Regions from separate parts of the Homo sapiens genome. Here all the other regions are linked to region 3. The links come from fine-mapping of genetic effects on gene expression. A gene starts in region 3. Each other region holds a variant in brackets. All regions are shown on one strand. Distances are between the middles of the regions. Region 1 overlaps GALNT13 (polypeptide N-acetylgalactosaminyltransferase 13). Region 2 has its middle 36 kb from the start of RPRM. Region 3 holds the start of RPRM (reprimo, TP53 dependent G2 arrest mediator homolog). Region 4 has its middle 56 kb from the start of RPRM. Region 5 has its middle 62 kb from the start of RPRM. Region 6 has its middle 69 kb from the start of RPRM. Region 7 has its middle 30 kb from the start of RPRM.

Evidence for each region. PIP is the estimated chance that this variant, and not a neighbour inherited with it, causes the effect.
Region 1: its variant is fine-mapped to the expression of RPRM in tibial artery (GTEx, PIP 0.98).
Region 2: its variant is fine-mapped to the expression of RPRM in whole blood (INTERVAL, PIP 0.99).
Region 4: its variant is fine-mapped to the expression of RPRM in whole blood (INTERVAL, PIP above 0.99).
Region 5: its variant is fine-mapped to the expression of RPRM in whole blood (TOPMed, PIP above 0.99).
Region 6: its variant is fine-mapped to the expression of RPRM in whole blood (INTERVAL, PIP above 0.99).
Region 7: its variant is fine-mapped to the expression of RPRM in whole blood (TOPMed, PIP 0.99).

Annotation. Positions count from the first base shown.
Region 1 is chr2:154,359,395-154,363,681 of GRCh38, forward strand. The region is part of intron 9 of GALNT13 (polypeptide N-acetylgalactosaminyltransferase 13); the gene reads left to right. Among named protein-coding and RNA genes, the nearest start is that of GALNT13-AS1, 96 kb to the right of the region's middle. The variant C/G (reference allele first, on the strand shown) is at 2,542.
Region 2 is chr2:153,440,242-153,444,528 of GRCh38, forward strand. It overlaps a transcript of GALNT13 not described here. Among named protein-coding and RNA genes, the nearest start is that of RPRM, 36 kb to the right of the region's middle. The variant C/T (reference allele first, on the strand shown) is at 2,566.
Region 3 is chr2:153,476,920-153,481,206 of GRCh38, forward strand. It overlaps RPRM (reprimo, TP53 dependent G2 arrest mediator homolog), which reads right to left and starts at 1,843. Exons shown (of 1, transcript NM_019845.3): 1 at 419-1,843. The coding sequence starts at 1,646. The coding sequence ends at 1,317. It also overlaps a transcript of GALNT13 not described here. RefSeq lists enhancers at 10-513, 514-1,017, 1,018-1,521 and a silencer at 1,878-2,077.
Region 4 is chr2:153,420,718-153,425,004 of GRCh38, forward strand. It overlaps a transcript of GALNT13 not described here and the pseudogene TUBAP13. Among named protein-coding and RNA genes, the nearest start is that of RPRM, 56 kb to the right of the region's middle. The variant A/G (reference allele first, on the strand shown) is at 2,216.
Region 5 is chr2:153,538,357-153,542,643 of GRCh38, forward strand. It overlaps a transcript of GALNT13 not described here. Among named protein-coding and RNA genes, the nearest start is that of RPRM, 62 kb to the left of the region's middle. The variant G/T (reference allele first, on the strand shown) is at 2,416.
Region 6 is chr2:153,407,671-153,411,957 of GRCh38, forward strand. It overlaps a transcript of GALNT13 not described here. Among named protein-coding and RNA genes, the nearest start is that of RPRM, 69 kb to the right of the region's middle. The variant A/G (reference allele first, on the strand shown) is at 2,485.
Region 7 is chr2:153,507,028-153,511,314 of GRCh38, forward strand. It overlaps a transcript of GALNT13 not described here. Among named protein-coding and RNA genes, the nearest start is that of RPRM, 30 kb to the left of the region's middle. RefSeq lists an enhancer at 1,783-2,285. The variant C/A (reference allele first, on the strand shown) is at 2,209.

The DNA.
Region 1 (4,287 bases), 880 kb after region 3:
GATCAGCTCTGGAGCTGATCATAATCCAGTAGGGAGAATTGCTGCCTGTAGCGATGGTTCCTGGAACTACCATTCACCTACTGGAGGCTTCCTAGAATTGAAAGATCATGAAAATGTGGACAACTACCTTAAGAGCTAAAACGAGGCAAAGGTGAGACTTACGGTCATCTCTTACCTTCCTGGTAAAATTTCTCAGATCATCTGATACAATGTAAGACAATCTGCTTGTGATCCATAGGCCACTCGTTCTTCCTCCAAAATGGCCTTGTACATGTTACTATATTTTATTTGAATGTAAACACAATTACCAAGCAGTAAATAATGATTTTCCTTACCCATTGATTAGTGCATGTTGATACTGAAGATGCATTGATTTGTACAAGCCTAGCTTGAAATGGAGCAGATGGGTATGTAAAGGTTTACTCAAAATCAATGTGAATTAGATTGCTGCTCCTCAGTAAAATGAATTATAAGTTAGAATGGCTATTTTCTTTAACTTAATGTAATAGAATGCTGTCTAAGGCAATCTGTTAAGGTAGACTTACTGAAAATGTAGCCTTTGATCTCAAAAATAAGCATTCCCAAAACAACATGATTTAATGAGCAAAGACAATATTATGTCTAAGAAAATGTAGTTAAGGCATTGTAGCAAATGTCCTGGAAAAATGTTTGACAATAAACTTGTTTTCTTTTAAAAAATAATAATCATGTTCTTTCGAGTTATACAGTATTACACTGACTGCTTTTTTTCCTTGATTGTTTGTAAATATTCACATATACATATGTTACAGTGGTTTAATCACTGTACTGCTCACAGTGCAGCAGTGCTGATGGATAGCTTTTGTTAAAGAAATATCATTAACATTTATATCCTTGTTTACTGCTGTTGCTTACAATGTAAAGAAAACAATAATCCATTTATAGTCCACTGGCTGTATATTCAGGCTTTGTTCATTCCTTTAAAAAGAATAGTCCAACCATTCATGTTCCTGAAATATTAAGGGAATAGGCCATTCTTTGTCCAACTTCTTAAATAGATCTTTGAGTTTCGGAAAAACTATGGGGGAGAGAAATGTGTCAAAGGAAGTACCACAGACTGTGTTTTATCCCAGTATAGGGTGCTGCTTTCGCAGAAAAGCGAAAAACATTCCCAAATAAGAGTATATTTTTGTTTTGCTACTGGAATTATTCCTCAGATGGCTTGTGCCTGTTTTTAGAGTGATACAAATTTGCAACGTGTACCTATGTGTGGATGGATGTCTCATAAGTCTATTGTCATAAATGTGACTATTCAGTATATCTTTATTGAGCACGTATGTTGTACCAAGTAACATACTGTGTACTAGAAATTTAAAGAAATAGAAAGCAGAGCTCCTGCTTTCAAGGAACTCAGTTTGATGTGGCACCATGATAGCTCTCAGGCAATTTAAGTCTATACAAGAATTCAGAGAAGGAAGGATGAGATTAATCCAGCCAAAAAGGGTTGAGGCATTTGACTTGGGATTATAAAGATGAATCATACTTTAGAAGCATGGGGAAGGGGAGTGAAGATGGGGTTGGTTAAAAACCTAGGAAATTTGAAAACAAAAAATGAAAATACAAAACACAATTTGGAAAGATGGGTTATGTAAAACAATTGGAGCATGGAGTGAGTGGTGGGGAAGAAAGTAAAGTGATCTTGCATAAATAGCCTAATTTCTCTACATATTTTTCATATTAAACACCCAAAAGAACAGCTTATTTTTGTCTGATATTTAAGTTATGTTTATAAAGATTTTATTGAGCAGAATGTGATCAACACTGCTGGTATTACAAAGCATAGGGGCATGTTGTAGATTAATTTGTATGATGTATCCATATACGGTTTATATGCATATATAGCATAAACGCTTCCTTCAAGATTGGTATATGTGTAACCTAAATTAGTCTCTAGCTCCAATTCTGATACTGTTTAAGTATGTAACATTGGCTAAGTTATAACATTTCTAAAATGTAACTAGACGGTCTATAATTCTTTCAGCCAAAACCTTTTGGAGTGATCTTATGACTTTGTGATTCAAGGCTGAATATTTGGAATCAGACTGTCCTGGATTGAAATCCTAGCTCTCCTGCTTGCCAGTTGTGTAAACTTTATCATTTTGCTGTAATACAGTGCATTCTCTAATCCTCAAATCCCTCTTATATAAAACTAAAAATAGTGTCTATCTCATAGGATTGCCTTTAGATTTAGTGTAAAGTGCTTAGCCCATTTCTGTCACATAGTGAGTACTTAACAGATGCTGCCTATTACTATTGTGCGATTCCATACTGATTAGTAAAAGAATCATATCCACTTAATTTCTGGGCCTTTGAATGTCAAAAACTAGGCCTGTGTCATTCTAATAAGCATGATTAGGCTTTTTAAATAAACATTATTCACCTCAGTCTTGGGCAGTGATTTCTCATGCTTGAATTTTAGTTTTGGCTTTCCTAAGACTTCTTAGTTTAGCTTCTGGCACTCTTTCCAAGACTTATTTATTTTGGAAAACTAATATGACTCAT[C/G]TCTCAAGATAACTGGCCCTTGACTGCCATACTTGATTTAGTTTGCCCACAGTTCTTGGTAAAAGATCCTGCTACTACTGAGCCCAGTCCCATGGAATCAGCTCTAACTAAGCTATCACTTCAGACATAGAAGAGTAAAGAACAAAGAGTAAAGAAGGCAATGAAGATAAACAACTGAGTGTCCACAGGAACTGGTGGCACCCTATTTTCACAAAAGAATTGGCATTAAGAATTGGAATGGTCCTTGGAAGTTTCTATTCTAACACATATTTTCAGAGTGTAAAAAATGATCACAAATTCTACCCCCACCCCCACCCCACCCCACATCAAGAAGTGAGTCTATCTAGTTTCTCGCTTCTTGAGTCTGGACTAGTCTTATTACTTGCTTTTCTGACATACATGACATAGAATAAAATAGAGTAGGTTTTGATTCTCAGACTAAAGATTTGTATATTTCATCTCTCTCTCTCCCCCACCTCTCCTTTCATCTTTTCCTCTCTCTCTTTCTCTTTTTCTCTCGGAGAATGTTTAGCATATGAGCAAGCCAGTTTAAACTATTGGTGGGTGAGAGACCATGTGTAGAGAGGTCCCATTCATCCCAGTCTTTCTAGTCAAAGTCATCTTAAACTAGCCAACCCCCACCCAACCCAAAAGCTCTTGCCAAATGCAAGAGAAAACTTGATATACAAGAAGAAAAAATAAAGCCCAGCTAAGCCCAGACAAATTGTTGACTTACAGAATTATGAGCTAAAAAAACTGGTCATTGTTTTATGCACTAAGTTTTGCATAACTGCTATACTAAGCAATGCATGAATCACCTCTAAAATACTGCCTACAAGTGGCCAAATAGCTATTGCATTAAGGAAGAAATTTTCTCCCCACATTCATTTTCATGAGTGTGAGGATACTATATGGCTCAATAATTAGCGTAGGTCAACCTTTCAAACCCTTTAAAGTATTAAAGTAATCACGTGAGTTTTCATTATAACAGATTTAAATCACAAATGAAATTGTCAGTTTATTTTTGAGTTACCAAATTCCTTACACAGCTTTTAAAGTTGCATTGTACACTGTTTTGCTTTCTCATTTACTTTAACCCAGAAATACTTTCTAAGCTTAAGTACATTCAAAACTTGTTTTTTTCTCACCTGATTCTACTGATCTCTGGGATTTGTTATTTTCAGAATCCATTGTTTGTTTTGCTAACTTTTTCTCGCACTGTATTACCTTTCTTGGCTTAAAAACCCAATAGGCTTGGTAAGCCAGATGTACGCCTGTCCAACCAGCTCACCCCAGTTTGAATCACTACTCTTTCATCTTCTCTGCCTTCCCAGTATGGCTTAGATATTCTCAAGCCTTGGCTTGCTTCCAGTCTTTTCAGAACAGTATTCTGAATTATGTCTATAGCATTTGTTTTAACTTTTTTTTGTGGAGCGGGGGGAAGCTCAAATGTTCTGATTATTTATTCTGTGGATTTCTGCAGTGGACCAGTGAGGATTCTGCCTGTCATAGTTATCTCCATCAATCCATCAGCTAATTGCACGACCTTTTCTTAAAAATGCAATTTTGTTGCAATCACTGTTCTGCACACTCTGACCCATTATGGTGATGAAAGAAAATTAAACCACATTCTAAAATATGAAAAAAAGCAAAGAACAGTGTGATGAAATGAAATGGTTATGTCTATATGCTGAAATGTAAATGTGGGCAAATTCTTTTTCTGTAGGGAGTTTTTATGTGAAGCTC
Region 2 (4,287 bases), 37 kb before region 3:
TTTCCAGCTTCATCCATGTCCCTGCAAAGGACATGAACTCATCCTTTTTCATGGCTGCATAGTATTCCGTCGTGTATATGTGCCACATTTTCTTTATCCAGTCTATCATTGGTGGGCATTTGGGTTGGTTTGAAGTCTTTGCTGTTGTGAACAGTGTTGCAATAAACATATGTGTGCATGTGTCTTTATAGTTGAATGATTTATAATCCTTTGAGTATATACCCAGTAATGGGATTGCTGGGTCAAATGGTATTTCTGGTTCTAGATCCTTGAGGAATCACCACACTGTTTTCCACAATGGTTGAACTAATCCACACTCCCACCAACAGTGTAGAAGTGTTCCTATTTCTCCACATCCTCTCCAGCATCTGTTTTTTCCTAACTTTTTAATGATCGCCATTCTATCTGGCATGAGATGGTATCTCATTGTGGTTTTGATTTGCAGTTATCTAATGACCAGTGATGATATGCTTTTTTTCATATGTCTGTTGGCCTCATAAATGTCTTCTTTTGACAAGTGTCTGTTCATATCCTTTGCCCACTTTTTGTTGGTATTGTTTGTTTTTTTTCTTTTGAATTTAAGTTTTTTGTATCTTCTGGATACTAGCCCTTTGTCAGATGTATAGAATGCAAAAAATTTTCCGATTCTGTAGGTTACCTCTTCACTCTGATGATAGTTTCTTTTGCTGTGCAGAAGCTCTTTAGTTTAATTAGATCCCATTTGTCAATATTGGCTTTTGTTGCCATTGCTTTTGGTGTTTTAGTCATGAAGTCTTTGTCCATGGCCATGTCTGGAATGGTATTGCCTAGGTTCTTTTCTAGGGTTTTTATGGTTTTAGGTTTTGCATTGAAGTCTTTAATCTATCTTAAGTTAATTTTTGTATGAGGTGTAAGGAAGGGGTCCGGTTTCAGATTTCTGCATATGGCTGGCCAGTTTTCCCAATGACATTTATTAAATAGGAAATCCTCTCCTCATTGCTTGTTTGTATCAGGTTTGTCAAAAAACAGATGGTTGTATATGTGTGGCATTATTACTGAGACCTCTATTATGTTCCATTGGTCTATATATCTGTTTTGGTACCAGTACCATGCTGTGTTGGTTACTGTAGCCTTGTAGTATAGTTTGAAGTCAGGTAGCCTGATGCCTCCAGCTTTGTTCTTTTTACTTACTATTGTCTTGGCTATACACACTGTTATTTGGCTCCATATGAAATTTAAAGTAGTGTTTTCTAATTCAGTGAGGAAAGTCAATTGTAGCTTGATGGGGATAGCATTGAATCCATAAATTACTTTGGGCAGTATGGCCATTTTCACCATAATGATTCTTCCTATTCATGAGCATGGAATATTTTTCCATTTGTTTGTGTCCTCTCTTATTTCCTTGAGCAATGGTTTGCAGTTCTCCTTGAAGAGGTCCTTCACATCCCTTTAAGTAGTATTCCTAGGTATTTTATTCTCTTTGTAGCAATTGTGAATGGGAGTTCACTCATGACTTGACTCTCTGCTTGTCTATTATTGGTATATAGGAATGCTTGTGATTTTTGCACATTGATTTTGTATCCTGAGACTTTGCTGAAGTTGCTTATCAGCTTAAGTAGATTTGGAGCTGAGACAATGGGGTTTCCTAAATATGCAATCTTGTCATCTGCAGATGGAGACAATTTGACTTCCTCTCTTCCCATTTGAATACCCTTTATTTCTTTCTCTTTCCTGGTTGCCCTGGTCAGAACCTCCAATACTATGTTGAATAGAAGTGGTGAGAGAAGGCATCTTGTCTTGTGCCAGTTTTCAAAGGGAATGCTTCCAGCTTTTGCCCAATCAGTATGATATTGGCTGTGGGTTTGTCATAAATAGCTCTTATTATTTTGAGATACAGTCCATCAATACCTAGTTTATTGAGAGTTCTTAGCATGATGGGGATTTGAATTTTATTGAAGGCCTTTTCTGCATCTATTGAGATAATCATGTGGTTTTTGTCATTGGTTCTGTTTATGTAATGGATTATGTTTATTGATTTGTGTATATTGAGCCAGGCTTGCATCCCAAGGATGAAGCCGACTTGATCATGGTGGATAAGTTTTTGATGTGCTGCTAGATTTGGTTTGCCAGTGTTTTATTGAGGATTTTTGCATCGATGTACATCAGGGATATTTGCCTGAAATTTTCTTTTTTTGTTGTGTCTCTGCCAGTTTTTGGTATCAGGATGATGCTGGCCTCATAAAATGAGTTAGAGAGGAGTCCCTCTTTTTCTATTGTTTAGAATAGTTTCAGAAGGAATGGTACCAGCTTCTTTTTGTACCTCTGGTAGAATTCGGCTGTGAATCTATCTGGTCCTGGGCTTTTCTTGGTTGATAAATTACTGCCTTAATTTCAAACATTCAAGTCTGCTGAAGCTGTGCCTACAGCTGCCCCTTCCCCCAGGTGCTCTGTCCCAGGGAGATGGGAGTTTTACCTATAAGCCCCTGACTGGGGCTACTGTCTTTCTTTCAGAGATGCCCTGCCCAGAGAGGAGGAATCTAGAGCAGCAATCTGACTACAGCGGTTTTGCTGAGCTGCAGAGGGCTC[C/T]TCCCAGTTTGAACTTCCCGAGTGGCTTTGTTTGCACTGTGAGGGGAAAACCGCCTACTCAAGCCTCAGTAATGGTGGACAGCCCTCCCCTTACCAAGCTCGAGTGTCCCTGGTTGACTTCAGACTGCTGTGCTTGCAGCAAGAATTTCAAGCCAGTGGATCTTAGCTTGCTGGGCTCTTTGCGGGGTGGGATCCACTGAGTTAGACCACTTGGCTCCCTGGCTTCAGCCCCCTTTCCAAGGGAGTGAACGGTTTTGTCTCGCTGGAGTTCCAGGCACCACTGGTGTCTGAAAAAAAACTCTTGCATCTAGCTCGGTATCTGTCCAAATGGCTGCCCAGTTTTGTGCTTGAAACCTAGGGCCCTGGTAGCATAGGCACCCAAGGGGATCTCCTGTTTTGCGGATTGCAAACACTGTGGGAAAAGTGGAGTATCTGGGCCGGATTACACAATTTCTCAAGGGACAGTCCCTCACAGCTTCCGTTGGCTAAAGGAGGGAGTTCCCAGATCCCTTGTGCTTCCTGGGTGTGTTGACACTCCACCCTGCTTCAGCTTGCCCTCTGTGGGCTGCACCCAGTGTCTAGCCAGTCCTAATGAGAAGAACCAGGTACCTCAGTTGGAAATGCAGAAATCACTCACCTTTTTCCCATTTTCCCTCACTTTTCTCTATGCTTTGCTCTCCAGCCATCTTGGACTTTCTCTAATTTCATAAATATGTCACTATCCATTCATCTTTAAGACTTGAGTACTATTTTTTATGTGCGGAGCACTCTTCACTGTGTTTTCTATTATTTATCTTCTATCCTTAGGATCTCTGCTTGAAAGTCAATTTCCCAGGCCAGGTGCGGTGGCTCACACCTGTAATCCCAGCACTTTGGGAGGCCAAGGCAGACGGATTGCCTTAGGTCAGGAGTTCCAGACCAGCCTAGCCAACATGGTGAAACCCCATCTCTACTAAAAATATGAAAATTAGCCGGGCGTGATGGTGGGCTCCTGTAATTCCAGCTACTCAGGAGGCTGAGACAGGAGAATTGCTTGAGCCCGAGTGGCAGAGTTTGCAGTGAGCTGAGATCATGCCATTGCACTCCAGCCTGGGTGACAAGAAACTCCATTTCAAAAAAAAAAGGTCAGTTTCTCATAAGGGCCTTCCCATTCTCCCAAGATTATGTTAGATTTCTTGTGCTCTATAATAATCTCTCCTATAATTCTATAATTTATCTTGACAGTGCTTAACTACAGTTAGTAATTTTATCTATCATTTACCTACCTATATGTTTGTCCATCTGTCCATTCATCCATCCATCTACATATCTGTCATCTATCTATCCATTTATTCATCTATCTACCTATCTATCATCTATCATTTATCCATCCATCCACTCACCCACCCGCTGACCTACCTACCTACCTACTTGCCTACCTGCTTACACAACTACCTAGGGTGATAGTTAATGTTTATCTCCCTCTTAGATCATAAACGCCATGGAGTTCTTGTACTTTGTTAGTCACAGAACAAAACATATAGTATGTACTCAAGAAATATTTTTTGAGTGAGTGAATGAATGAATAAATGAATATAATCTGATAAAAATCTCAATCTGTTCAATTGTATTTTGACTATCATGATTGAGGAATGTGTTATTCAAAGATTTACAAAGTGCACTAGCAGAAAAGCATTATCTTTGCTATCCATTTGATGGTATGACTAGGGTGTAAAGAGTATA
Region 3 (4,287 bases):
CTGACGTTGGTTAGGGTAGAGACGCCCTCCCTAAAGGCTGTCCAAGCCGTCTCTTCCTTTCATTAGCGGTGTAATCCTGTGTTCCCGCCGGAGCCTGGCACGGAAGTGTAATCTTCCCGCGGGGGCCCTTCTGTCGTCTCGCCTACCTGAGAGCTGAGACTAAATGAAATATAAAATATTCACGATAAGAGGAAACAAAGGATGCTGCCTCCAGGACGGCTACTGTGCCTGAGGCTGGGCTCCTTCTCAGTCATCCCAGGGCCTCTCCGTCTGGCCCCACCCTCGCCCCTCCAGGGGATCCACAAGTTGAATCGCAGCTCTCCAGGGTTAATTGCCCTGGCCGGGAGCCAGACTCCTCACCGCCGCCCCGTTCCCCCCTGCTGGGGAGCGCAGAATGACCACCAGGAGGCCAGGAACAAAACGCTTAAATGTTGCATTTATTAAGGAAATGTTAAATAAGAAAAAAACAAAAAGTCAAAACGGTGTCACGGATGTCAAGAGCACTTTTGTGGCGTAAACCGTGCAGTCACGAGCTACGAGTTCTATTCTGGGTCTTTGTCCCAGGGCCAGCAGGAACGCTAGACGCCTCCCAAAAGACCCAGTGGGAAATGCACTAAAAGAAACAACTCACCCCGTTCAAATTCGCAGGCTCCCCCTCCCCCCACCCCTTCTCCCACAATGACAAAACTGTAACTCCTCAGGCAGGCAAACAGGCCACTGGGGCAGAAAAAGACTTATCAAACATTTGTATTCAAGCAAACAAACACAAAACCTCTTAAAACGGCACGTTACAATCAAAGGTATTTATCGCCCCTCCCCTCCAGGGCAGGGGGGGAGCAGGAGAAGAGTGGGAGCGCACCCGGACACGGATTTGTGAGACCCCATGAGTCTGCTGCGTGGCTTTTAACAGGTCACTCTTCCGGTCACAAGGCGATCAGTGCCGCTGGGTCTCTCCCCTGCCCGCCCTCTCCACCTGCCCCCAGAGCTTGGCCCACCTGCGGGTGGAGAAGGGCCTTCGCACCGTCGGTCTCCCCGCATTCCAAGTAAGTAGCAGCTTCCAAAGTTCTGCGCCCTAATCGCCCTCTTCTTGCCACTTTCTGCTGAGTTCAGAGTCTGGGCGCTCTCCTCCGACTGCCAGGCATGAGGACTTTCAGAGGGCGAGGGAGAAACCGGTCGCTTCTTTCCGAAAGGCCGAAGTCGAGAGAAATAATTGACTCCGACAGGTTTGCTTCGCCCAGTCTCTGATAGTGAGGGGCACAGCCGGGCTAGCAAAGTGGGCAGGCGTGGGAGCGGTTGCCGCGGGGGCAGAGGGCGGGTCAGTAGGGCCCCACGACCACCGCCTCCACCTCCTTAGACGGCCTCCGGTCCTTCACGAGGAAGTTGATCATGCCCTCGGACTTGATGAGCAGATTGCAGCCGAGGAAGAAGATGCCGAAGACCACGGTGAGTGAGAGCACGCACATGACCGCGATCTGCACCACGCGCATTATGTACAGGCTACGCTCGTCCGGGCCTCCCTCCGCGAAGCCGTCGTCGGTCACCACGGACGCCTGGGTGCAGCAGCGCACGGCTCGCTCCAGCGCCTCGCTGCTGTTGGCCAGGAACAGGCCCGCCACGTCCGTCTGGTTGCCTAGGGCCGGATTCATCGCAGGAACGGGCGGGCGCCGCGAGCGGCGCGGGTCCGAGGGGTGGGAAGGCGGCGGCGCTGGAGGAACAGGTGCCGGGCTGAGCGCTCACTCGCAGACTAGCGCGTGCGAGGGCTCCTCGCTCTGCTTTCGAAAGTCCCTGGGCCGTGGGAGTTTCCCAGGAGCCTCTCCGACGCGCGCAGCAGCTAGGCTCTTCTAAAGCCGTCCGCTCCAGCCCTGGTGGTGCTCGTTCCCGGCGCTCGCTCGAGGGGGGGCTGTTGGAACTTGGCGGGGCTGGACCAGCCCGGCCGTGGGAGGTGCGGGCCGCGGCGGCTGCAGCGGCGGGGTGGCTGCGCTGAGCAAACAGCGGCCCCTTCCGGCCGCACCGCCGCGCTGCGCGCTGCTCTTGGGAGGTGGAGGAAGCAAAGGGGCGAACCTGGTCTTGCTTTTTATTGCTTGCTTCTTTTGCAAACTCCAAAGGCCAGGCAGAGGTCACTGTACTCTTCTAGCTTGATGGATGATTAAAGAGTTTGTCGGGGGAGGGTGCGGTCAGCTGAAAGTTTCAGAGGAACTGGGACACACGAGCTCTGCGTGTCCTTTGCCTGCTGCCCCCCTGACCTCTGGGCGAATGGAAAGTGGCGATGAATCGCAGGTGCCAGATGGTGCCGGCTGAGGCCACCCGCCCACTGCCTGTGCTTGACTCCGACTCGCCTGCGTTGGATTTCTAGTGGAGTGGAGGTGATCTGAGAATGTTTCTTACAAAGCAATGAATTTGGAAAGACAGAAAGGCATGGAAGAAGGAAGGAAGAAAGGAAGGAAGGAAAGAAAAAAGGAAGGGAGGGAGAAAGAAGAGCTCTACACCCAGCTTCCTTTACAAAAGCGATTGGGAGACAGAGCAAGGCAGGTTTTACCGTGAGGTTTGAGGCCAAGGAAAGAGGGTTAGAGGAAGGAGGAGTTCTTCTGTGGCCCTTGGGTGGAGGTAGTTGCCGGGAGCAGGGTCACCTCTCTGGTAAAGGAGGTGAACAGAGTGACCACTTGCTTGTAATTTTAATTGCAGATAAGTTTTTGGATGTGCTTCCAGCATTTTGTCCGTTGGCAGTAAATCAGTTGTTGAAGGGAATTGCTCATCAACATCCATCACCTAGAACGCTGGCCAAATACTGGGAGCCCTCCCCATTTTCCATAAGCTGATGTATTTCACCCTTAGTCATTTAAACTAAACACAGATGTTTTTATAGGCCTGATTGACGCTTCAGCCATTGTGATTTTGCTCTAGGTTCCAACGAAATTCTATAAACCTGTCAGATTAAGTTTCTTAACTCTGAAAGAATATTGCATGTTCCCGCTCCCCCTTTTCTGTTTTCTTTCCCCTCCCTCCTTTTCCCCATTACTCCCTGCCTTCCTCCCTCTTTCTTTCAGCTGTAACAGCTGGAAACCAGTAACTTGAGCTTCCAATAGAATACATTTACTTTCTATTAAATGTTCTCACCACAAAGAACTGATAAAAATTTGAGATAATGGGTACGCTAATTACTCTGATTTGATCATTCCACATGTATATGTGTATCAAAATATCACTTTGTACCTCATAAATATGTACAGTTGTCAATTAAAAATAAAATAAAACTGAAAAATAGTAGCTGTCTTGCCATTTTCAACTCTACTCTTAATTTCATTCTGTTTGCTTGGTAAATCCTCTTATTTCTGTTTCTTAAAACATCATTTATTCCATCTTCAGAGTGTTCCTTAAATGTTTTTGCACTGCTTCATGACTATCATAAAATAGAATGAAATGCCTTCTGGTTGAGTTTTCAATTTTTTGATATTTATGGTATATCAGCTGCAATAAGTTTGATTTTTTAAAATAGCTATTATTATTTTGAGGGGGATGTTTAACAGCTGAAAATTCAGGCTTGGGCTTCTACCACAATTCACTGGCTTATTGTTCTAGTTTCCCATAATTTAATTAGAATTGAAAAATACCTCACTCTCGGCAATTTCTTCTTTGAAGAAATTTATTAATAATTGATAAGTAAGAATTTACTTAAATCTCATCATACAATCAGTCTATCTTAGTTAATGTGGGTAGTCCTCAAGAATAATAAAACGTAATGTATACATGGAAAAAATTACAACAAATTTAAGGCAATATAAAGTCATCCTGAGATGAATGGTAGAGAAAAGTAATAGAAATTTAGAAAAATAAAAGGTCAGAGAACAGAGGCCCACCTCCAGGGATCAAGTTGTACAGAACTGTGTGTTCAGTAGAAGTTAGGTGTAAGCAAATGGAGAGCCCCTTCTTTATGTGACAAAAACCAAGAGTTAGTTTATAGTACATTTGTAAGATCCAATATGGAAGGATGCTAAAAGTGTTAGTTGAATCATTATCAGAATTTGAGTATATTTATTGCTAGGAACAGTATTGCTGTTTTCGTCAGGTCAGTGTTAAAATGATCAAACCTTGGAGTCAGGAGAGTTTTTATATTTAATCAAATCTTTGGGTGGGATCTTTTCTCTCAGGTTTAAGGACTAATTAGTCACAAAATTGTTGACAAGGTAATAGGTATTTCCCCCATCAGCTAGTTCAGCTCTCTGGTTTTGTTCAAGACAATCTTGGGATTGTTTCCCTTATTTTCCCTCCACTCTGATTTTGTTTAATAAA
Region 4 (4,287 bases), 56 kb before region 3:
CATAATCTTTTTCAAGGGCAGCCATGTCCTCACAGGCCTCAGAAAATGCTTCTTCTCCCATCTCCTCACCCATTTCCCAGTGAACAAAGGAACAGTTGGCATAACTCAAGTCAGACTTGTGGCCCAGGCAAACCCAGGCCTCAGCAATGGCTATGGTGTTGCTCAGCATGCACGCAGCTCTCTTTATGTTGGCCAGATTTCCAGCAGGTACCACAGTGGGAAGCTGGCAATTAATGCCAACTTTGAGGCTAGTGAAACACCAATCCACAAACTGGATGGTGCATTTGGTCTTGTTAGTGGAATAGCAGTAAGTATTGACATATTTGGGAACCACATTACCACGGTGTAATAGGCAGTAAGCCATGTATTTACCATAGTGAGAGTCACATTTCACCATCTGGTTGCCTGGCTCAAAGTGAGCACTGGTGACCTCTGCTATGCATGGTAGTCTTACCCAGCAGAGATGACAGGGCATATGTGACCAAAGAGAAGAGGATGCAGGAAGAGGGTACCAGGTCGGTCTGGAATTCTGTCAGACTCCATGAAATCTGAGAGAAGCAGTGATGGAGAACACAATCTGGCTAAGAAAGCAGTTAAAGATTAGGGTAGTTTGGGTGCTCAGTATTGGGGTTTCTACAACAGATGCCATAGATGGCCTCATTGTCTACTATGAAGGCACAATCAAAGTGCTGCAAGGTGGTACTGGTGGTGGAATGGAGTTGTAGAGCTCAACCGCAGCTGTGGAAACCTGCAGGGCTAGGTAAATGGAGAACTTCAGTTTAGACTTTGTGGCATAATCAACAGAGAAGTGAACCCAGAACCAGTTTCTCCACCAAAGCTGTGGAAAACCGAGAAGCCCTGAAGACCTGTGCACTGGTGAACCAGCTTGCGAATTTGGTCCAAAGGCCAATGATCTTGCCAATGTCGTGATGCCCCCAGGCATAGTTATGGGCAGCGTCTTCCTTGTCTGTGATGAGCTGCTCAGGGTGGAAGAGCTGGTGGTAGGTGCCAGTGCAAACTTCATCAGTGACTATGGGTTCCAGGTTTATAAACACTGCCCTGGACACAAACTTGCCTGCTCACTGAAGAGGCGTAGAATCAATTATCTCCTTACCCAGTGGTCTTGTCACTTGGCATTGGGCTATCGTGCTGGATGCTTTGTTCCAGGTAGTAGAGCTCCCGGCAGCATTGCCAATCCAGACATCAGCCTCGCCAAGGTGGATGAAGATGCACTCACACGTAGTGGCTACAGGTTAGAAAAGCAAAAGTCAGAAGATACTGGGTCTCTGTTACCATCCCTGACATGTTAAGAGTCAAATAGGCAACACATTGTATTTGGAAATTGTTTTTTAAAAAAAAAGGCATAAATAGCTCATGAAACACTTTAAGAAGAAATGATAATGGAAATTCGAAAATATTTCTATCTGAATGATAATGCAAATGCTGTAAATCAAAATGTGTGGGATTTGGCTAAAACCACAATTAAAAGGCAAAAGCCTTAATTGCGTATATTAGGAAAGAAGAAAAACTAAAAATCAGCACAACTTCCAGTTTACACAGGCAGAAAAAGAATAATGAAGTCATCCAAAGAAAGTAGAAAGAAGGAAAAACGTAAAGATGAGAATAGAAGATTTTTAAATGGAAAATAACCAATAGCTATCCCATCAGGGGCTGGAGGGAAGAGGAAATGGAGACATCAGTTCAAGGGGTACATGGTTTATTTACAAAAGATGAGTAACTTCTAGAGGACTGCTGTACAATTGTACTTAACAATACTGCATTGTCCACTTAAAAATTTGTCATGAGAGTAAATCTTAGGCTAAGTGCTCTTATCACAATAAAAAAATACAGAAACAGTAGAGTAAAAAGTGCTCAAAGTTAATTCTTTTAAATAAACTAATACAATAGACAAATCACTGGCAGATTAATAAGAGAGAGAGGCTTTAATGAAAACTAGACCACACAATCATAAAATAACATTTTGCCAATTATTTTGAAAATATATTTTTTAAGAAAAAAATACACTTTACAGAATAGATTCAAGAATAAATAAAAGTCTGAGTAATCCTATTAAAATAAATGAAATTAAATCAGTAGTCAACAATTTAAGCATTGGTGGAAAACACAACGACAAAAACGACAATAACAGCAAAACCAACAATGACTGAAACAAGAAAAAAACATGTATTTTAAATATATTTACAAGATAATTTCA[A/G]TAAACAAGGGTTTGATAGTATCTATTTTATTCACACTGTTCTAAAGTAAAAGAAAAAGTAAGACAGCTCCTCAACAATTTTATATTTTGGTAAACTATACTTTGATAAAATCTGTCAGGGATGTTAGTGAAAAAATTTCAGATCATTATCTTTTATAAAAATTGATATAAAAATAATAGCTTAAATATTACCAAATATAACAAAGAAAAACATGCACATTTAAATCATGACAAAGAATGATGAATTTTTTTCTTAAGAATGCAAGCATAACAATGTTAAAACGTGATAAATTAACATGTAATTTATCACTAAGAAATTAACAATTTTTAAAACATATGATTATTTCAATACATGCAGGAAAATCATTCAATAAACTCAGGACTCCTTTATAATATAAACTCTTAACAAATAGGAGTAAGGGACCCTATTTAATATGAAAAAAAGTTAGCTACCAAATATTACTTTAACCAAGATACTTTGTAATAAAATGTTAAAAACATGCCTTTAAATCGAGAACAAGGCCTCAATGCCTTCTTCTATTCATCATTGTGTGGAGTTCCTGCTAAATGGAGAAGGTATGCAAAATAAATTTGCAAGGATTAGAAAAATATAAAACTGTCATCATTTGCAAAGATTATGATTATGTATATGAAAGTCCAAGAGAAGTTACAGAGAATGGTTATTTAAAAATTAAATTCATATATACAAACAGCAAACAAAAATATAATTTCAAAATATAGCAATTACAGAAGCAACGAGAGTACTAGAAATAGAAGTAACTTCACAGAGGCAAGACTTTAATGAGAAAGTCATAAACCTTTATTGAAAGTTATAAAAGACCTAATTAAATGTAGAGATACATTACTTACACATAAGACTTACTATAACAAATATATGAGTTCTTCCTCCTATTTATCTATACTTTCAAAAAAAACCCCAAGATTTTATCATTTTTATGAAGCATGATAAACTCATCTTAAAACTTATGTTAGACTATAAAGTGCCTAAAACAGTTGAGACTTCTCAAAAAACAAAAATGATAATGGTCTAGTCATTCAAAATATATTATGAAACTATAGTAAATAAAAATTTAACTGAAAAAAAGTAATAGATAGAAAAATCCATTTACTGAACAGATCGAGCCATGTATATGTGGGTCCTACCCATGTATATGTGGGTTCTACCCACATATACATGGCTTGATCTGTTCAGTAAATGATTCTGGGTCAATTGGCTAAACATACAGAAATAACTAAGATCAAATATATCCTTACTTTATATAAAACACACATTTTTCTAATTGCATTAGAGGCATGAAATGAAAAGCAAAACTAGATGTTTAGGAGAAAAAAAGATAATATTTAAAAAATTTTGCTGTGCCTATATTTCTTAAGCAAATTACCCTGAAAAGGATGAAAAATCAATCTGGATATATAGAAGATATTTGCAGTTCAGAAAACCAAAACTCATTAGTGTATGGAATATGCAAATAATTTCTTCCAAACAAGAAAAAGAGAAGCTAGTTATTGAAAATGTTTAGCAAAAGATAATTGATAGAAGAAAGCATAAGCTGCAAATTAACATTAGAAAGAATGTTATATTCCATTAAGGATATACAAACTAAAACTGCAATAAAGTAACATTTTATATCCATCAGATTGGCAAAAATAATGTCTGATAAATCCAAGTGTTGGGAAACCAGGTCTCCTATTATCTGTGGTAGCATAAGTTGGTAGAGATATTTGAACAGAAATTTGGTAGAGTAGTTTGGAAGAACTTGTCATACATAATAAAACTAGTAGCTGCATTTCCAGAAGTCTTTCATAAACTCCTGCATATGTGCACAAGAAAACATAGAAAGGTGTGCTAATTTCAGCACTGTTTGTAAAAGCAAACACATGGAAATAGCCTAAGAGTTGAAAACAACCTAGGTAAGGGAATGGATAACAAACCATTGTTTATTCACTAGAAAAAATATCAGACAAAAGTGAAAAATAAAAGTGAATGAATCATGTCTACCTACATCACCAGGTATAATTCTCAAAAACATACAATGTTGACTAAAGCAAAA
Region 5 (4,287 bases), 61 kb after region 3:
TTTTTATTTTATTTATTTTATTTTATTTTATTTTATTTTATTTTATTATTATACTTTAAGTTTTAGGGTACATGTGCACATTGTGCAGGTTAGTTACATATGTATACATGTGCCATGCTGGTGCGCTGCACCCACTAACTCATCATCTAGCATTAGGTATATCTCCCAATGCTATCCCTCCCCCCTCCCCCCACCCCACAACAGTCCCCAGAGTGTGATATTCCCCTTCCTGTGTCCATGTGATCTCATTGTTCAATTCCCACCTATGAGTGAGAATATGCAGTGTTTGGTTTTTTGTTCTTGCGATAGTTTACTGAGAATGATGATTTCCAATTTCATCCATGTCCCTACAAAGGACATGAACTCATCATTTTTTATGGCTGCATAGTATTCCATGGTGTATATGTGCCACATTTTCTTAATCCAGTCTATCATTGTTGGACATTTGGGTTGGTTCCAAGTCTTTGCTATTGTGAATAATGCCGCAATAAACATACGTGTGCATGTGTCTTTATAGCAGCATGATTTATAGTCCTTTGGGTATATACCCAGTAATGGGATGGCTGGGTCAAATGGTATTTCTAGTTCTAGATCCCTGAGGAATCGCCACACTGACTTCCACAATGGTTGAACTAGTTTACAGTCCCACCAACAGTGTAAAAGTGTTCCTATTTCTCCACATCCTCTCCAGCACCTGTTGTTTCCTGACTTTTTAATGATTGCCATTCTAACTGGTGTGAGATGGTATCTCATTGTGGTTTTGATTTGCATTTCTCTGATGGCCAGTGATGATGAGCATTTTTCCATGTGTTTTTTGGCTGCATAAATATCTTCTTTTGAGAAGTGTCTGTTCATGTCCTTTGCCCAGTTTCTGATGGGGTTGTTTGTTTTTTTCTTGTAAATTTGTTTGAGTTCATTGTAGATTCTGGACATTAGCCCTTTGTCAGATGAGTAGGTTGCGAAAATTTTCTCCCATTCTGTAGGTTGCCTGTTCACTCTGATGGTAGTTTCTTTTGCTGTGCAGAAGCTCTTTAGTTTAATTAGATCCCATTTGTCAACTTTGTCTTTTGTTGCTATTGCTTTTGGTGTTTTAGACATGAAGTCCTTGCCCATGCCTATGTCCTCAATGGTAATGCCTAGGTTTTCTTCTAGGGTGTTTATGGTTTTAGGTCTAACGTTTAAGTCTTTAATCCATCTTGAATTGATTTTTGTATAAAGTGTAAGGAAGGGATCCAGTTTCAGCTTTCTACATATGGCTAGCCAGTTTTCCCAGCACCATTTATTAAATAGGGAATCCTTTCCCCATTGCTTGTTTTTCTCAGGTTTGTCAAAGATCAGATAGTTGTAGATATGCGGCGTTATTTCTGAGGGCTCTGTTCTATTCCATTGATCTGTATCTCTGTTTTGGTACCAGTACCATGCTGTTTTGGTTACTGTAGCCTTGTAGTATAGTTTGAAGTCAGGTAGTGTGATGCCTCCAGCTTTGTTCTTTTGGCTTAGGATTGTCAGGCAGAAGAAATTTCTAAGCAGCAAAGCATTTAAGAGGTGACCGAGCATAAAAGTTTGGAAAATGTGCAGCCTGACAATATGGTAGAAAAGAAAAACCCATTTTCTGGGGAGAAATTCAAGCCAGCTGCAGAAACGTGCACAAGTAATGAGGAGCCAAATGTTAATTGCCAAGACAATGTGGAAAATGTCTCCAGGATATGTCAGGGACCTTTATGGCAGCCTCTCCCATCAGAGGCCTGAAGGCCTACGAGGAATAAATCGGTTCTGTGGGCCTGGTCCAGGGCCCCCCTGCTGTGTGCAGCCTAGAGACTTGGTGTCCTGCATTCTGGCCACTTCAGCCATGTCTAAAAGGGGCCAAGGTACAGCTCAGTCCATGGCTTCAGAGGGTACAAGTCCCAAGCCTTGGCAGCTTCCATATGGTATTGGTCCTGCAGGTGCATAGAAGACAAGAGTTGATGTTTGGAAACCTCTGCCTAGAATTCAGAGGATGTATGGAAACATCTGGATGTCCAGGCAGAAGTTTGCTGCAGGGGTGAAGTCCTCATGGAGAACCTCTACTAGGGCAATGAAGAGGGGAAATGTGGGGTTGGAGCTCCCACACAGAGTCCCCACTGGGGCACTGCCTAGCAGAGCTGTGAGGAGAGGGCCACCATCCTCCAGACCCCAGAGTGGTAAATCCACTGACAGCTTGCACTATGTACCTGGAACAGCCACAGGTACTAAACAGCAGCCAATGAAAGCAGCCCCCGGGCCTGTATCCTACTGAGCCGCAGGGGCAGAACTGCCCAAGTCCATGGGAGCCCACCTCCTGCAACAGTGTGACCTGGATGTGAGACATGGAATCAAAGCAGATTTTGAAGCTTTAAGATTTAATGACTGCCCCGCTGGGTTTCAAACTTGCATGAG[G/T]CCTTTGGTTCTTTTGTTGTGACCAATTTCTCCCATTTGGAATGTGTGTATTTACCCAATATCTGTACCCCCATTGTATCTAGAAAGTAAGTAACTTGCTTTCTATTTTACAGGCTTATAGGCAGAAGGGACTTGCCTTGTCTCAGATGAGACTTTGGACTTGGACTTTTGGCTTAATGTTGGTATGAGCTAAGACTTTGGGGGACTGTTGGAAAGGCATGATTTTGTTTTGAAATGTGAGGACATGAGATTTGAGAGGGGCCAGGGGTGGAATGATATGGTTTGGCTGTGTCCCTGCCCAAATCTTATCTTGAATTGTAGCTCCTATAATCCCCAGGTGTTGTGGGAGGGACCCAGTGGGAGGTGATTAGATCATAGGTGTTGTTCCCCCACCCTGTTATCATGATAGAGAGTGAATTCTCATGAGATCTGATGGTTGTATAAGGGGCTTTTCCCTCCTTTGCTCTGCACTTCTCCTTCCTGCCACCATGTGAAGGAAGGATGTGTTTGCTTCCTCTTCTGCCATGATTGTAAGTTTCCTGAGGCTTCCCTAATCCTGCTGACCTGTGAGTCAATCAAATCTCTTTCCTTTATAAATTACCGAGTCTCAGACAGTTCTTTATAGCAGGGTGAGAATGGACTAATCGACTGACTTTCTCTTGCCCTCCTGTCTCTCATTTCTCTTCTTTCTCAAGGCACCATAGAAACTAGAATCCTTCTTCTCCAGTGTGGGTCATAGAAACCAGAACACCTTTCCCCAAAGCCAGTCATAAAACCTACAATTATTACTCTAACCTTCTCCCCTGCGTTTCTGTGTAAAAACTGGTCATAAATAAATTATCTGATCTACCTTGTTTGATTGTAGGCCATAAGACCTTCATTCCAGAGGGTGTCCTGGCTTAACCTCAGAAAGGAGGGGAATACATGCTTAGAGAAAACAGGAAGAATCTAGCTGGACAGGGCTTGCTTGGTTTCCCCACTCAGTTATTAGCATTAGCTTTTTTGTTCAACGTATTTCTATACAGTTGCCCATAGTTTGTTGAACATAAGCATAAAAATGGACAATTTCCCCTGTATCTTTGGGCCTTCATTCTGAAAGCTCTTGTGTTATATGAAACTATGATCAAATACATTTCTATGCCTTTTCTCCTATCCATCTGCCTCTAGTCAGTAATTTTTAAATGAACCTTCAAAGGGTGAAGGGGATATTTTCTCTTGGCCCTGACAAGTTGCAAACGAATACTAGAGCTGAACAGTAATTAAAGGCCGGGTACAGTGGCTCACCCCTGTAAACCCAGCATTTTGGGAGGCTGAGGCGGGTGGAACACCTGATGTCAGGAGTTCAAGACCAGTCTGGCCAACATGTTGAAACCCCATCTCTACTAAAAATACAAAAAAATTAGCCAGTCGTGGTGGCACAGGTCTGTAATCCCAGCTACTTGGGAGGCTGAGGCAGGAGAATCACTTGAACCCAGGAGGTGGAGGTTGCAGTGAGCTGAGATCATGCCATTGCACTCCAACCTGGGCAATAAGAGCAAAACTCCATCTCAAAAAACAAACAAACAAACAAACAAACACACACACACACAAAAAAAAAACCGGAAGTAGAAGCACATTTTATTCAGGACTATTGCAATAGGAGAAAAGAGATTTAAGTATAGAATGGGTCTCAGTTCTGAATACAGCTTGAGCAACTAGGAATTTATAGCAAGGGGCCAAGTTGGGGATCAGTAGATGGAAAATTATGAAGAGGAAACATCAGGGGTAAGGAATATTTTGATTAAACTGAACTAACAGGATTCTTGCTGAAGACAGGCCAGGGTGATCAGACATCACTTGAGGGATGGTAGAGGATGAAGAACCCAACTAGCT
Region 6 (4,287 bases), 69 kb before region 3:
GTCTGATTCTTTTTATGTACTTTCTTCCCTGGTGGAGCTACAATTTCTATAGGTTCGTAAGTGATGTCAACTTTAATTTTAATGTAATATCCACTTTGATTCTGTCTATCTCTAAAGATGTGTCTTTCTGGACTCAGCATAAACATCATGCTAATAGCAGGAAGATTAAACATTAAGGGGTAGGGGTAGGCTTGTGTGCCACTTTTATCTAAAATTTAAAGTGGGGTCTTGCTGTAGTTACTCATACCACAAGAATGGAAGGGGCACTAGCAGTAGAGCTGGTGTCATAGCATCGAAATGCGTGATTTACAGTAAAAAATAATGAGAATGGTAACCCCCCAGAGTAGTGCAACAAAGCAGCTCTACATCTGAGCGGGAGTGGATAGGAGACTTCAAATTTCCCTTCGCTCCTAATGAGCCCCCAGTGGGTGTTAGAATTAGCTGAGAGAGCAACTATAGAATATAGGTTACCAGAAGAAGGTGACAATGTTACAGAAGCAGAGGAGTGGACCATGAACTGTGGGTTAGAAAGAGACTATGGCTCATCTCAGGGTTCCAGGCCAGGGAGCTGACTTCTGGTTGCCAATAGAGGAAGAGTGGAGGGGTTGCTTTCATACTGAGTAACACCTGTGCAGAAGAGCTGACAAGATGAGATACATCTGCAGAAAATGACCGGCATATGATCAAGCTACACCACCACCAAGTTGAAGGAAATAAAACAAGAAAAAATAAGCAAAACCCACGAAGAAGTATAGAAGGAAGGAAGAGAGTAAGGGAGGGAAGAAGGAATGAAGGAGAAAATAAATAGCAAAAATAGTCCTATAACTTTCAATAAAGACTTTCTTACTTTGGCAATCAAAAGGGACCCTGGCTCACTGGCTTGCTCCCACCACTAAAACTGAAATGATTCTACACGATTGTGCCGATTTACTCGCAGAGCTCAGAGCCCACAGTTGGTGTTTTTTGTTGTTGTTGTTTTTTGTTTTTGTTTTTGTTTTTTTTTTGCTAAGGATGGGCCTTTTGCAAAAAAGATGAAGACAAATGCTAGGGAAACTCATACTGATTTGCTAAACTAATTAGCCTATTGTGATGGTTAATATTGAGTGTTAACTTTATTGGGTTGAAGGATGCAAAGTACTGTTCCTGGGTGTGTCTGTGAGGGTGTTGCCAAAGGAGCTTAACATTTGAGTCAGTGGACTCAGTGAGTCAGAGGCAGATGCAACCTTAATCTGGGTGGACACCATCCCCTTGGCTGCCAGTGCAGCTAGAAACAGCAGGCAGAAGAAGGTGGAGTGAGCAGACTTGCTGAGTCTTCTGGCCTTTATCTTTCTCCTGTGCTGGATGTTTCCTGCCCTCAAACACCAGACTCCAAGTTCTTCGGCTTTTAGGCTCTTGGACTTACACTAGTGGTTTACTAGGGGCCCTTGGGCTTTTGGCCACAGATTGAAGGCTGCATTGTCCATTGCCTGCTTCCCTACTTTTGAGGTGTTGGGACTCGGACTGAACCACTGCTGGCTTCCTTGCTTCTCAGCTTTCAGACAGCCTATCATGGGACGTCACCTTGTGATCATGTGAGTCAATTCTCCTTAATAAACTCCCTTTCATATATATATATATGAATATGTATGTATATATATATATGAATATGTATATATTCATATGTATATGTATATATTCATATGTATATGTATATATTCATATGTGTGTATATATATATATATCTCCTAGTAGTTCTGTCCCTCTAGAGAGCCCTGACTAATACAGATTTTGGTAGCCTGTATCGTAAAATATCTGGAAAAAGCTAACAGTCTGAAAGAAAAAGACTAATAAAGCAACCACAACAGAAGCAAAGAAAACACGAAAAGTAAAAGAGAATTTTTAAAAATTAGTAAATTTAGAGAAATTCAGGAAGACACTGTGTTCATAATCCCAAGAATCAGTGCCATGAAAATTAGGTAATCAGACAGCAAGAAGAATACAGAAAGCTACACACATAATTACTGAAATAAAATGTGAGAAAGGCTAAACTAAGAAATAAAAAGAACTGCGTAGTATTAATGATCAGAAAGAAAAAGTTAAGGAAATTTCCCAGGATATTGATGTAAAAAGAACAAAAATGCTAAAGTATAATTAAGAATAAAAATGGAAAAAGCAAATAATAAACATTTTCTTGAACTGAACACACACACACATTCAGATGTGAAGGTCATACAATGTGCCAAGAAAAATGCTCCAGACCTGGTTATATCTTGGTAAAAGTTGTGAACTTGAAGGAGAAAGAAAAAATATCTTAAGAGTTTCTAGGACAGAGTGAAAGATTATTTACAAAATTCAGAATCAAACCAGTGTCAGCCTTATATACAGATTAGAATACTAGGAAACAAAGTAGGGCAAAGTCTTCAAAGTCCTAAATGAAAATGCTTTGTTGTTGTTGAGACAGGGTGTCACTCTGTCACCTAGGCTGGGGTGCAGTGGCAATATCAC[A/G]ACTCACTGTAGTCTCTACCTCCTGGGCTCAAGTGATCCTCCCACCTCATCCCCCACCTAGTGGCTGGGACTACAGGCACTCACCACACTCAGCTATTTTTTTAGGGGGGGTGGGGTAGGGGGAGAGAAAGGAGTCTCACTATGTTGCCCAGACTTATCTAGAACTCCTGGGCTCAAGTGATCCTCCTGCCTGTGCTTCCCAAAATGCTGAGATTACAGGCATGAGCCACCACACCCAGCTGGAAATGCTTTTGAACCTAGAATTCTATACCATGTAATATTCAAAGTAAGAGTACAAGAGAGAGCTTTCAACAAGCAATGAGCTTTGAAAAATTTTGTTTTCCAAGCCCAAATCACTCATTTAATCATTTCAAACAATCAACAGACAATCATCAGAGAAGGGAGGAAAGAGAAAGACATAGGAAACAAAATATCTAAAGCCTGTAGTTCAATAACTAGATTAACTCATTTTTAGTGTGAAGGTAATTCTCTTGTTAAAAAAGTTTTTCTAAAGATGTAGAGATATAATGTAAAAAATGTAATAATAATCTCAATTAAAATTCTAGATAGCTTGAATAAAAAGAGTGGAGCAGGGAAATAGAGATAAAAATAAGCCATATATAGTGTATTGATTATATAGTGTTAGCACTAGAGATAGTCTGAATTCTAGAGTTTGAAAAATATTTACACACACACACACAAATATATAAATATATATTTAGAGAGAGAGAGAGAGAGAAAGGAGAGAGAGAGGAGAGAGAGTCCAGGCTGGAGTGCAATGTCATGATCACTGCAAACTCTGTCTAATCATCTCAAACCATCCTCTCACCTCCCTGAGTAGTTGGGACTGCAGGCACTCACCAACAGGCCCAGCTAATTTTTGTAGAGATGAAGTTTCGCCATGTTGCCCAGGCTGGTCTCAAACTCCTGAGCTCAAGCCATTTGCCCACTTCAGCCTCCCAAAGTGCTGGTATTACAAGCGTGAGCCACTGTACATGGCATATATGTATATATATATATATATATTTTTTTTTTTTCCTAAACTGAAGAGTAATACATTCAGTCATATAGTAAATTCATTCATTAATTCATCAAGTACTTATTGAATACCTGTTCCATGCCCAGCACTGGATTCAGTATAGGGGATCCGATAGGGAGATGTGGCCCTGCCCACAAAGAGTTTGGAATACATTTCAGTGAATTAGGAATCTGACATGGGAAGCTCAGGGTACTGTGGGACCACACAGGAATGGTACCTGACCCAGGCTTGATGAGAGATAGAAGAGGCAACTAATTTCTTTAGGAAATGACTCAGATAAAATCGGGAGTAGGCGGTGGGGGAAGATGTATGCATGAGAATGTATGCATGACACTGAAAGAGACCATGTGCTTTGAAAGAACTGAAACACTTCAGGTGGGTTGGAGTATAAAGTTCACTGGGGTAGTAGCATGAGATGAAACTGGAGGGGCAAGCAGGTGCTGGATCATGCTGGGCCGTCTGACTGATGCTGGAGCAATAGTAGTAGCCCTTGAAAGCTTCTTATGAAGGAAAGAAGGGTGGTGTGATACGTTTGCATATTAGAACATTAACTCAGGTTCTGCATAAGCATGGTAGAAATGCTTTTGCCTCTCCAAAACCAATAAAATTTTGCTATAAAGAATTCATCCAATTGTGATGGTTAATACTGAGTGTCAACTTGATTGGATTGAAAGATGCAAAGTATTGATCCTTGATGTGTCTGTGAGGGTGTTGCCAAAGGAGATTAACATTTGAGTCAGTGGGCTAGGAAAGGCAGACCTACC
Region 7 (4,287 bases), 30 kb after region 3:
TTCATTTTTTAAAATTCTTTTTTCTTTGTCTTTGATGGATTAATTTGATGGGTTAGTTCAAAAGCCTTGTATTCAAGCTCTAAAGTTCTTTCTTCTGCTTGTTAGATTCTATTGCTGAGACTTTCCAGTGCATTTTGCATTTCTCTAAGTGTGTTCTTGATTTCCAGAAGTTGTGATTGTTTTTTATTCGTTATTTCACTGAAGAATTTTTATTTCGTATCCTGCATCATGTGTTTTCCTTCTTTCTTTCCTTCTTTTTTATTTTTATTTTTGGAGATGGAGTCTCACTCTGTCGCCAGGCTGGAGTGCAGTGTGCTATCTCAGTTCACTGCAAGCTCTGCTTCCCAAGTTCAAGCAATTCTCTTGCCTCAGCCTCCCAAGTAGCTAGGACTACAGGCCCGTGCCACGATGCACAGCTAAGTTTTGTATTTTTAGTAGAGATGGGATCTCACCATATTGGCCAGGATGGTCTCTATCTCCTGATCTCGTGATCCACTAGCCTCGGCCTCCCAAAGTGCTGGGATTACAGGCTTGAACCACCATGCCCAGGTGATGTTTTTTATTTCTTTAAGTTGAAGTTCACTTTTCTCTGGTGCCTGCTTGATTAGCTTAATAATTGACCTTCTGAATTCTTTTTCTGGCAATTCAGAGATTTCATCTTGGTTTGGATTCATTGCTGGTGAGCTGGTGTGATCTTTGGGGGTGCTAAAGAACCTTGTTTTGTCATATTACCAGAATTGTTATTCTAGTTCCTTCTCATTTGGGTGGACTACGTCAGAGGGAAGATATGGGACTGAAGAGCTGCCGTTTAGATTATTTTGTCCCACATGGTGTTCCCTTGATGTGATGGTCTCCCCATTCCCTTAGGGATGGGGCTTCCAGAGAGCCAAACTGTGGTACTTGTTTTTGCTCTTCTGGGTCTGGCCACCTGGAAGAAGCTACTGGGCTCTGGGTTCGTACTGGGGAGTGTCTGCAAGGGTCCAGTGATGTGATCTGCCTTCAGATCTTTCAGCCATGGACACCAGCACCTGCTCCAGTGGAGGCAGCAGGGGAGTGAAATGGACTCTGTGAGGGTCCTTGGTTGTGTTTTTGCTTAGTGTACTGATTTTGTGTTGGTTGGCCTCCAGCCAGAAGGTGGCACTCTCAAGAGCACATCAGCTCTTATAGGGAGGAAGCAAACATGCCCTAGGGTCGCCTGGTTATGTATTCAGGTTTCTCAGGCAGTGGGCAGGGCCATAGAGCTCCCAAGAGATTATGTCCTTTGTCTTTGGCAACTAGGGCAGATAGAAAAAGATCACCAGGTGGGAGCAGGGATAGACATGTCTGAGCTCAGACTATCCTTGGATGGGGCTTGCTGCAGCTGCTATGGGGGATGGTGGTGTGGTTGGTTCCTAGGCCGGTGGAGTTATGTTCCCACGTGGAGTATGGCTGCCTCTGCTAAGTCATACAGGTCACCAGGGAAGTGGGGGAAAGCAGGCAGTCACAGATCTGACTCTACACCCATGCAGCCCACAGTCCTAAAGGCTGGTCTCACCCCTACTGTACTCCCCCAACAACACTGAGTCTACTTCCAGGCAGCTGGTGACCAGGGCTGAGAACTTGCCCCAACTACCAGCCTCCCCGCTGATGAAGCAAGTTGACTCACGGTTTTTTAGCATCTCAGGGAGCCTGCAGCAGTGATCCAGTTCCTTCAAAGGGTTTATGGATTCTCTCAGCTTTCCTGGTATGTTGCTGCGGTAGTTCTTGGAGCAAAAGCTCATGATGTGAGTCTCCGCAGGCTGCTCTGTCTCCCAAGTGGGAGCTGCATGGTAGTCCTGACTCCTATCTGCCATCTTCCCCCCTATAAATCTCCTAAGAACTTTAACCCTTTTGCCGGCATGTCAAGTTTCTGGGTTCTCTTCCTCTGAGCCGTTAGCCCTATCACCCTGGAGTCCTGCGAAGGTGAAACAGACAAAGAAGTTGTCCTTCCCCAAGAGATTGGCAGGCAGTTTAAGGTTTGGGGAAATTAAACCCTTCCCAGTTTGGGGGATGCATCCGAGGGAAGTGTCTTGTGGTTATAGAAACGTGATTACCCGTCCAGGAAGAGAGGACAGAGGAAGAAAGAAGGAAATAGCGGGCGCTGTGTGTGGGGAGAGGCCAGGCAGCGGGAGCAGGTACTTTTGAGCCTGCGGGGAAACAGGAGCTTCCAGGGTCCCTGAGAGTGCAGGG[C/A]TGCCTCAGTCAGCAGCCATGGCTGGGCAGCTGCAGCTGCGTCAGGGAGCTGGGGCTCCCGCCCTGCCAACTGAAAACGGGGCGGGGCTTCCACCTGTTTCTGGTTCCCACCAGTTCCACGGAGTGCGCAGACCTGGCGGAGCCTCCCCTGCTGCAGCTGGAGTCCCCGCAGCGGCTGCTTCAGACGGGCCACCGCTGCCATCAATAGTGATTCCTTTGCTTATATTTAAGAACTTGAAACTGTTTTAATAAATAATTAGAATATTTAAAAGCACAGACCATAAAGAAAAACCCTAGATGAAATGTTTAAAGAAATGTTGTAAATAAATTAACTGAAACTTCTTGTTAAAAGTGTTATTGTAGATGGTCATTGAATTGCTTCTATATAGATAGGAGGTGTCAAATTCCAGCAATCAACATTTAACTCTCTGTGTATGTGTGTGAACTTGGTTGAGCCAGGCGTAGTGAATAATAGTCACTAATTACAACTACTTTCTTCCTCTCCCAGGGCTAGACCATGCAAAGCTTTGGCCCCTAAGGGACTCAGACCTGACTCTAGCAGAAGGCCTTTTATGTTTGCCTCAGGGGATTATAAAGTTTTTCAAGAAGCCTAGTTTCATTTCATTAATTGGTGATGGAAAAATCTCGTAATTAAAAATTTTTAGATACAGGGCCTAAATTTGTTTTCAGTGAGACTTATTTTTACTACTAAGTATATTTTTATCTCATTTTTACACTGCACTATGTTGTTTGATTGCACTTATTTGAGAAATATTTTGGTAGCAATACCAGGACTTGTCTTAAAGGAGCTGTGACCCTTTAGGGTCTCAGGAAATTTAGGAAAGAAACAGAGTATCTAATTGCAGGCAGAAAATGTTCCAGCCTAAGCATGACTCAAAGAATGCAAATCTCACAATGATTTATTTTAAGCCACAATATTGCAATATCATTTTTAGTCTGTCCCAATTTCATCTCTCCACCCAAATCCGAGAGATGTTCCTAACAAAAGGGACAAGGGTAAACGTTTCTGGGGGTACGTATTGTTTCCAAAAGACTTGTCTGGCCCTTTGATATTTTATTACTACAATAACTCCACATAAGCTACGGCCAGAATCTTGAGCTGGACTCATTTACTCAATACGTGATTACTGAGTGTCTAGGATAAGCCAGGAACCATTCCAGGCTTAGACAGAGACCCTGCCCTTAAGAAGCTTGTATTCTATCTGAGAAGACTGGAAACAAACACGTATATAAAGCCAACACAGGTAACAAGGAGTGTAGGCTAAGGAGGTGCTATTTTATGCAGACACACCAACGTTGCCAGGAATTATCAGCCTGGCGGCACATTAGAATCACCTGGGAGTCATGAACAAAATTGACCAAGCCTTTCAACTCACCTTCAGCGATTCTGCTTTAATTAGTCAGAGATTCTGATTTAATATGTTGAGGCCTGGGCTCTGTTGTAGTTTAAAAACTTGCCAGGTGATTCTTATGTGCAGCCAGAATTGAGAAGCTGTGGTCTAAAATAGGAGGGATAAGGACGTATCAGCAAAAGAGACAGAGACTGTGGTTGGCGAGGTAGGAAGCAGACAGGAGAGCCGTGGTGTAGGTTTCAACTGAAGAAAATGTTTCTAGAAGGAAAGAGTTACCCAGCAAATACAAGCAGAAGGAGAGAGTGGGCCACTCTGTGGTATCTCGCAATGGAGCAGACACTGTTGGACAAGAGCAGATTCACTGGAGAGGTAAGGATGAAAGACTGACCTAGGAGTTACAAGAGGGAGCGAGAGAAGCAGAGAGAAAAAGAATAACTCTGTCCAGACGATTTCCTTTATTTGGGAGCAGAGAAAGGGGTGGAAGGAGGAAGAGGATGTGGAGTTGGAGGAGGAGGATTCTTAAAAAATCTATTCATGCCTTTTGATAGGAGCTATTAAAGTACATTTGTATGGTCCTGGGAATGACTCAGCAAAAAGGAAGAAATTGTTGAGATAGGAGAAAGAAGAAATTTCTAGATGTCCTGGAATGTGGTGGAAGAGTTGGGGTCCACTGCAAAAAAAAAAGGGGCGGGGGTTGGCTATAGAT